Regions from separate parts of the Homo sapiens genome. Here region 1 is linked to region 2. Evidence: fine-mapped expression QTL. A gene starts in region 2. The other region holds a variant in brackets. All regions are shown on one strand. Distances are between the middles of the regions.

Region 1 (4,392 bases), 260 kb before region 2:
GAAACCCCTGGAAATGAATTCAGAATAAAACCCAGCTTGAGGCCAGGCATGGTGGGTCACGCCTGTAATCCCACCACTTTGGGAGGCCAAGGAGGGTGGATCACCTGAGGTCAGGAGTTTGAGACCAGCCTGGCCAACATGGTGAAACCCCATCTCTACCAAAAATATAAAACTTAGTCGGGCATGGTGGCCTGCGCCTGTAATCCCAGTTACTTGGGAGGCTGAGGCAGGAGAATTGCCTGAACCCAGGAGGCGGAGGTTGCAGTGAGTTGAGATCACGCCACTGCACTCCAGCATGAGTGACAGAGTGAGACTCTGTCTCAGAAAAAACAACAAAACAAAAACAAACAAACAAAAAACAGCTTGGTTTACTAAGGGCGTGGTAACCATTACGGGGAGTGGGGGTGGATTTTCCAGAACTGTCAAGATTTCAAATTATCTGCCTATTGTACTAATAAGTTATTAAAAGTCCCAGAAATCCCAGTATGGATTCAGGCCTCACATCTAAGGTTGCAGGCAGCCAAAAGGTATTTGTTTTCTAGATCGTATGTCTTCAGCTTTGATCCCAGATGCTGGAGCTTCTTAAGAGCTGGCACTAGTTTTTTTTTTTTGTTTAGTTTTGTTTTGTCTTGCACTATCACCCAGGCTGGAGTGCAGCGGCATGATCTCCGCTCACTGCAACCCCCGCCCCCTGGGTTCAAGTGATTCTCCTGCCTCAGCCTCCCAAGTAGCTGGGGTTACAAGTGTGCGCTACCACGCCCAGCTAATTTTTGTATTTTTAGTAGAGACAGGGTTTCGCCATTTTGGCCAGGCTGGTCTCGAACTCCTGACCTCAGGTGATCCACCCACCTCGGCCTCCCAAAGTTCTGGGATTACAGGCATGAGCCACTGCACCCGGCCTAGTTTTCATTTATAGATGAAGAAATTGGGGTGCAGCATGGGGAAGAGATCTGCCCACATGGCACGGGCGCGAACACACCTACTGATGAATGCTCATTGCTGGTTTCTTTTTTTTCTTCTTTTCTTGCTTGCTTTCAATTTTATCCTTGAAGGTGGCTTGGAGGGAGCAGGGGAATGTCTTTTTTTCAAGTGGAACAGTGGCTACATGTGGTGGCTCACACCTGTAACACTTTTGGGGGCCAAGATGGGAGGATCATTGAAGGCCAAGAGTTCAAGACCAGCATAGGCAACATAGCAAGACCTTGTCTCTAGAAAAAAAAATTAAAAATTAGCCAGGCATGGTGGTGTGCACCTGTAGTCCCAGCTACTCGGGAGGCTGAGGCAGGAGGATGGCTTGAGCCCAAGAGATTGAAGCTGCAGTGAGCTATGACTGTACCACTGAACTCCAGCCTGGGCAACAGAGCAAGATTATGTCTCAAAAAATAAAATTAAATTAAAAATTTAAAAAGGAAAAGTTTGGCTGGTCTGAAGGTAGTGAGTTATCTCAATTGATTGTGCATGGTCAGTTACAGATCAAAATCCTTGTTCCACTCTTCCCCCCACCCTTCTCATTACTGCACTTAGTCTTTAAAAAAGAGAGAGAGAAATGGAAAAGCTCATCGCTATTTCGAAATCACCGCTAACTCTCAAGGCAGAGAGCCAAGAGTCACATCTCTGCAAAGTGTCCATGGGATCAAAGAATAAGCTCTGATCATCTATCAGGATGGATTTGGCTGGAAGAGAAGCAGAGCCCAGAGGTCTCTGTAACATAGGGAGGGAACGTCATAGTTTTTAAGGTATTTTTACATGATTCCACTTAAGTTCATATAATTCTCCCAGCAACCTGCCAAGGAGGCTACTGTCATCTCAACTTCAGAGAGGAGGCAGTTGAAGCTGCATTGGCCTCAGAAGTGCCTCCCCATCCCAGGACACACAGGGGGATGTGGCTGGACCAGGACTTGGGTCCACTGGATGCTCCACTCCATCTCCTGGGACTCCAGAGGGTATGTGGTGACCTGGGCCAGATGCCCCATGCCCCATGCCTGATGCCTGTGCTGCTGTGTCTTGACCCCCCCAGACACTCACTGTGAAGAAGGATG[A/C]TATCCAGCAGATGAACCCACCCAAATTCTACCAGGCCAGTGACATGGCAGACATGACCTTCCTGAATGAGGCCAGTGTCCTAGACAATCTGCGCCAACGCTACACCAACATGAGGATCTATGTGAGTGCCAGGGATGGGGTGAGTGGGGGGAGGAAGGAGTGGCTGTAGATCTTCTGCTTTTCTTTTGTTGAGGAGGGGGTTGGCTACTCCACCCTCCCCAGCTCCCAGTACACATTATGACTTAGACAAAGGCACAGGGACCACGTTTCTGACATGTTAGAATTTCCACCCAAAGCCTTCGGCATCTCAGTAATGGCACCATCTCCGTGAGCAGCTTTTGCTGAGGCTGTCACCCGAAAATCTTCCTCCTCATGTTCCTCCCCTCTTCCTCAAACTCTCAAATCAAAACATCATTTTTCCCCTAGTGACTTCATGTGCCATTATTAGAAGTCCATCCATCCATCTATCCATTCATCCATCTATCCATTCATTCATCCATCCATCCATCCATCCATTCATCCATCTATCCATTCGTTCATCCATCCATCCATCCAAACATCCATCCATCCAAACATTCATCCATCCAAACATTTATCCATCCAAACATCCATCCATCCATCCAAGTATCTATCCATCCATCCAAACATCTATCCATCAACCCAAACATCCAAACATTCATCCATCCATCCATCCATCCATCCAAACATCTATCCGTCAATCTATTCATCCACCTATCCAAACATCGATCCATACATATATACGTCCAAACATCTATCCATCAGTCCAAACATCCAAACATTCGTCCACCTATCCAAACATCCATCCATCCATCAACCAAACATCCATCCATCCATCCACTCATCCACCCATCCAAACATCCAAATATCCATCCATTCATTCATTAATCAAAACACTCATCCACCCATCCATCCAACAAACATTGAGGAAATGTGACTTGTAGCCTGAGGCACTTAGGAAGGACAACCAACTGCATCCTTGAAGAAATTCAGTTTCACTTTGTCTGACATGATGACCAGAGTGAGTTACAATCAGTCCCCTGAGTGTCTTTGAAATCTTAAGACAGAAAGATGATTTCCTGAAGGTGTTGCAGCTTAACTCCCAAAATGGGTTGTCTAAGGACGTGTTGGTGTTTGCCTCTCTAGATGTCTTTATTTAAAAGGAAAGAGGCTTATCTGGTAGGAATAGGTGAGGTGCAGCCTGACTCCCAGGTCAGGAGCTGCTGGGGGTTCCCCTTCCCTGGGTCTATGGTTATAGTCAAGAGGGCTTCTGTGACCCCAGATTCATCCTCCTTTAATACTACTACTGTGGTTCTAGATTCAGGCCCCAGTAGTACCATAGCCCCAGGTGTTGCTGGAAGGTCTCTGAAATCTCTTGAAGATATTTGCTAGGTCTGGAAGTTAGCAGGGCATCCTTGAACCCCAGGTCTAGAAAGAGCCACACCCACCCCCGGCTGAACCTAGAGCCTGGGCTGAGAATGTCAAGGTACAGGCTCAAAGGTCAAGCTCAGGACCAGGGCTTACCTGGGGCTGCTCTGCCCGCAAGCCCTTGTTCCTCCTGGGTGACCACATCATGACTTTGGGCCAAGGGACTGCAGGCTTTGTGGAGTATAGCCTGAGAGACCAGGGCAGGGAGTCCCCTCCTACATTAAAGCGCCTCAATAGAGCCACTAATGCAACAACTCTAGCTGGCAAGGGCTGCTCCCATGATCCCAGCTGCTTCTCTCTCAATTCCTCCTGACCACAGCAGGGAGGTAACTGGCTTCCAGGATGCTGTCTGCCCCCACCCCACGGCTGAGACAGGCTGGAGGGGAAGAGTGACTCCATGGCTGGTGTCCCAGGATGAGACACTGTGTGTCATACTCTCAGCTGTTCCACTGGGTTTCCTTCATCGTCTCTTTGCCTTTTTTCCTGTGGATCAGTTTGTACTTAATAAGTTTCCTTTTGAAAATTCAACATATCCCAGTTATGCTAAGGAGGAGCTGGTGGCAGGGACAGGGGTGGATAGGGAGCAGTTATTCTTACTTGGTTCAAAATGGAAGGGTTTAAAGTTGAACTGAAACCAAGTACTTGGTGGATGCTTTAGAGGTCAATGTGACTGTCCAGCAAGGAGAAGAGAAATTTAAGATTCATAGATTTGGCCATTTCCTGTCTTCACTCATTCTTCCTGCTCTTAATTTATTTAATGATGTAATTGGTTTTTCTGGGGTTTTTTGTTTGTTTGTTTGAGATGGAGTCTCGCTCTGTTGCCCAGGCTGGAGTGCAGTGGCACAGTCTCACCTCATTGCAACCTCCGCTTCCCGGGTTCAAGGGATTCTCCTGCCTCAGCCTCCT
Region 2 (4,392 bases):
AGACCACACCACTGCACTCCCCCTGGGCAACAAGAGTAAAACTCCATCTCAAAAAAACCCCCAAAGCCAAAGATAAAAAACGAAAAACAAATGCTATACTTAATAAAAGTCATGTGAATGTGGTCTCTCCCTGTCTTAAAATATCTGATTGTACTGTGGGTAAGTGAAACCGCAGAAAGCAAAACCAGGAAGGGGGGACTACTGCCTGTCTCTAGGCATATTCTCTTCAAAAACTCCAACATAGAAACAAATATACAAAGATATGCAAGAATATACAAGAATGTTCGGTGCAATGCTGTAATGGTTAAAAACTTAAGACACCTAAATGTCCATCAACAGAAATGGAGAGAATTCTGGAGTATCTGGACCGTGAAATAGGTAGAGCTCCATGCATCAACATGAGTAAATCTCAAAAATGTAATGTTGAGTAAAAAAAGCCATACAGTAATGATATACAGCGTGGAGCTACGTGTCTATGTAGAGACAATATAAGACATGCATGGAAGTCATGAACACAACAGTCAGCTTACTGGCTACCTCTGGAGAAGGATAGAGGGGAAGGGTTTCAGGGAGGCTATGTGGGGGCCTCACCTACAGCTGTAACATACTATTTCCTTGGCAATATGGCCAAGTATTAAGATCTGATAAACTTGGGTGGTAGACACAGGGGATGGTCATTATCTTTTTTTTATATAGTTTTCTGTATGTATAAAACATTAAAAATGAACCAAAGTAAAAAGCTGAATCTAGCACCTAGCAGTACAGAGGCTCCTGCTTGCGTTACAGAAGGCACCTGAAGGCTCTCAGCCCAAGTCTGGGAATGGCATAGTGGCTCAGGGATGGTAGTGAACCAGCCCTTCACAAACCACACACCGCAATAAACCAGCAGAGCAACAGCACTCACTCGGCGGAACTGTGCTCCCGGAATCCTTCTGCGCACTCTCTCTGCAGAAGTCCCTCCGTGCTGGGTCCAGGCGCTCCCACTCCTCCCAGGTTAGAGACACAGCCGTGTCCTCGAAAGTCACCATCCCCTGGAACAACACAAGAGCCCCATTCAGTACCTGCTGTCCCTGTACAGCACTAACACTCTTCTTGAGTCTTGTACCGACAAGGGAGTTTGGAGAGATCAGAGATAGAGGCTGACATTCTCTTGTAATCCTGAAAAGCCTTTCTGTGGACTATTTACACTAATTTTGGAGGTAGGTAGGAGCAAAATATTTCTTTAACTTATATCACTGTGATGTATGGGAATGGAAATATGATACAGATTAAAAGTAAACAAGGCCGGGCGCGGTGGCTCACGCCTGTAATCCCAGCATTTTGGGAGGCCGAGGCGGGCGGATCACCTGAGGTCAGGAGTTCGAGACCAGCCTGGCCAACACAGTGAAACCCCGTCTCTACTAAAAATACAAAAATTAGCCGGGCGTGGTGGCGGGCGCCTGTAATCCCAGCTACTCGGGAGACTGAGGCAGGAGAATCGCTTGAACCCGGGAGTCAGAGGTTGCAGCGAGCCGAGATCGCGCCATTGCACTCCAGCCTGGGCAACAAGAGTGAAACTCCATCTCAAACAACAGCAAGAACAACAAGAAAAAAAAAAAAAAGAAAAGAAAAAGAAAGAAAACCAGTAATCCGTGTTCGCTTTATGCTGAGGTCTATAACAAGTCATTTCCTGGATGGATCTGTCACTGTGGCCTACAGAAAGGAAGTCCATACACACCCCAATGTTCACACGAAATGTAATAAGGAAGTAAGTTCCGAAACGCAGAGCACCCCTAAACGCCTATTTTCCACACTCCCACCTCCAGAACAGGCCTTTCGCTTCTCACCTGGGATGAGGTTCCATCGAGCGCTCGCTGCAGAGCCCGCACCACGGCCACCGCCTCCTCCCCGCTCTCTGGGCAGTGCTCTCGCACCCAGGCTTGAAGCTCCTCGGGCAGGATGGTGAGGAACTGCTCCAGCACCAGCAGCTCCAGGATCTGCTCCTTGGAGAGCAGCTCGGGTCTCAGCCACCGACGACAGAGTTCTCGGAGCCGGCTCAGCGCCTCTTCCGGTCCAGCCACCTCCTGGTAACGCAGCTGCCTAAAGTGCAGTCGAGAAGTTTCGGGGTCCGGCGAAGCCGCGGGATAGTTGGGCTCCCAACTTCCGGGTGAGTCTTCCTCCACTTTCACGGGCAAAAGTCCGTCGCGTTGGGACGGCGCCGCGTCCTTGGACCTCGCAGCCATCACCCAGGGTCCCAACTCGGCGTCACTGCCGCGCCTCTGGGCGGTCAAGCTGGAATTCATCTTTCTCCGGCATGTGCTGCCCTTCCTGGAGTCTTCTTTTCAGGTGAAGAAAGAGCAAACCCAAGGAACTCATCAGCCGTCAACACCCTCCGGTCCCAAACACCGGGCCCCACCACACCAGGCCCCTCTCCACACTCTCCTTTCCTCAGCTTTGCGCCTACAACTCTCTCGGTCAAACAACCGAAAACATCCCGTGCCGGAAGCGCGTCATCGAGGCCTTGCGGCACCTTTCCCTGCATTTCCGGGGCCTCTCTAGGCGCCTGATGGGGTGAGGTGCATCTCGCTGGTTTATCGTCCTAGCCCCGCCCGACGCAGAGGGTCTTGACGGTTTCCCGCATCCCGAGGAAATACGGGCGTCCGAGCCGGTGGCCGAGCTCCGGCAAGGGCGGGAACCTTCAGGATTAAATAGACAGGGTCTGGCTCTGTCGCCCAGGCTGGACTGCAGTGGCGCGATTTCGGCTCACTGCAACTTCTGTCTCCCGGGTTCAAGCAATTCTCCAGCTTCAGCCTCCCAAGTATCTAGGACTACAGGTGCGCGCGACCACGCCCGGTTTATTAATTTTTCTGTGGGGATGGGGTTTCATTATATTGCCCAGGTTGGACAAAGTTGTTTTTTTTTCTTTTTTCAGGCGGACTCTCGCTCTGTCGCCAGGCTGTCTTAGCCTCCTGAGTAGCTTGGACTACAGGCGCGCGCCACCATGCCCGGCTACTTTCTGTATTTTAGTAGAGATGGGGTTTCACCATGTTGGTCAGGCTGGTCTGGAACTCCTGACCTCGTGATCCGCCTGCCCCGGCCTCCCAAAGTGCTGGATTACAGGCGTGAGCCGCTGCGCCCAGTTGGAAAAAGTTTTGTTTTTTTTTTAAAACTAAGTGCTTCCATGTACATCAGATGTTAACGACTTTGATCCTAACAAACAAACAAAAAAGATGAGGAAATTGAGGCTCAAAGATGTGTCCTGGCCTGGCTCAGTGGCGTATGCCTGTAATCCCAGCATTTTGGGAGGCTGAGGGGGGAAGATCGCTTGAAGCCAAGAATTGGAGACCCCAATGTCTACAAAAAATAAAAAATTAGCTGGGTGTGGTGGTGCACACCTGTAGTCCCAGTGAGAGGTGAAGCTAGTTGGACTTCCTGGGTCCAGTGGGGACTTGGACAACTTTTCTGTCTTACAAGAGGTTTGTAAAAATGCACCAATCAGCGCTCTGTAGCTAGCAAGAGGTTTGTAAAATGCACCAATCAGCGCTCTGTAAAATGGACCAATCAGCAGGATTCTAAAAGCAGCCAATCGCAGGGAGGATGGAAAAAAGGGCGTTCTGATACGACAGAAACGGACATGGGAGGGGACAAATAAGAGACTAAAAGCTCCCACCCCAGTCAGCGGAGGCAACCGGCTGGAGTGCTCTGCCATGCTGTGGAAGGTTTGTTCTTTCGCTCTTCACAATAAATCTTGCTGCTACTCACTCTTTGGGTCCGTGCCATCTTTAAGAGCTGTAACACAGTGAAGGTCGGAGGCTGCATTCTTGAAGTCAGCGAGAGGATGAACCCACTGGAAGGAACCAACTCAGGATACACCACTTACTTGGGAGGCTGAGGTGGGAGGATCCTTTGAGCCCAGGAGGTAAAGACTGCAGTGAGATATGATCGCACCAGTGCACTCCAGCCTGGGTGACAGAGCAAGACTCTGTCTCTAAAACAAAGTGTCTTGGTTGATGTCAAGCTGCTGGTGATTTGCAACTTGCATAAAATGAGACGATCGCTTGAGACCAGGAGTTCCAGGCCAGCCTGAGCAACATAGAGAGGATGTGTCTCCATATAAAAATAAAAAAATTTTTTTTTGAGAGGGAGTATCGCTCGGGTTCAAGCGATTCTCCTATCTCAGCCTCCCAAGTAGCTGGGATTACAGGCGCGTGCCACCACACCCAGCTAATTTTTTGTATTTTTAGTAGAGACGGGGTTTCACCATGTTAGCCAGGATGGTCTTGATTTCCTGACCTCGGCTCACTGCAACCTCTGCCTCCTGGGTTCAAGCAATCCCCCTCCCCACCCCACGCCCAAACAAACCGAACACTATTTATCAATCCAGGTGTGTTTAATAACTAGACATAAAAATAT

Evidence for each region. PIP is the estimated chance that this variant, and not a neighbour inherited with it, causes the effect. A credible set is the group of variants that fine-mapping cannot tell apart.
Region 1: its variant is the best candidate, but not a certain one, in a credible set for the expression of ZNF394 in whole blood (TOPMed, PIP 0.86).

What each region holds. Positions count from the first base shown.
Region 1 is chr7:99,241,261-99,245,652 of GRCh38, forward strand. It overlaps a transcript of MYH16 not described here. Among named protein-coding and RNA genes, the nearest start is that of MYH16, 29 kb to the right of the region's middle. The variant A/C (reference allele first, on the strand shown) is at 2,040.
Region 2 is chr7:99,497,812-99,502,203 of GRCh38, forward strand. It overlaps ZNF394 (zinc finger protein 394), which reads right to left and starts at 2,470. Exons shown (of 3, transcript NM_032164.4): 1 at 1,827-2,470; 2 at 905-1,031. The coding sequence starts at 2,282. RefSeq lists enhancers at 910-1,578, 1,801-2,080.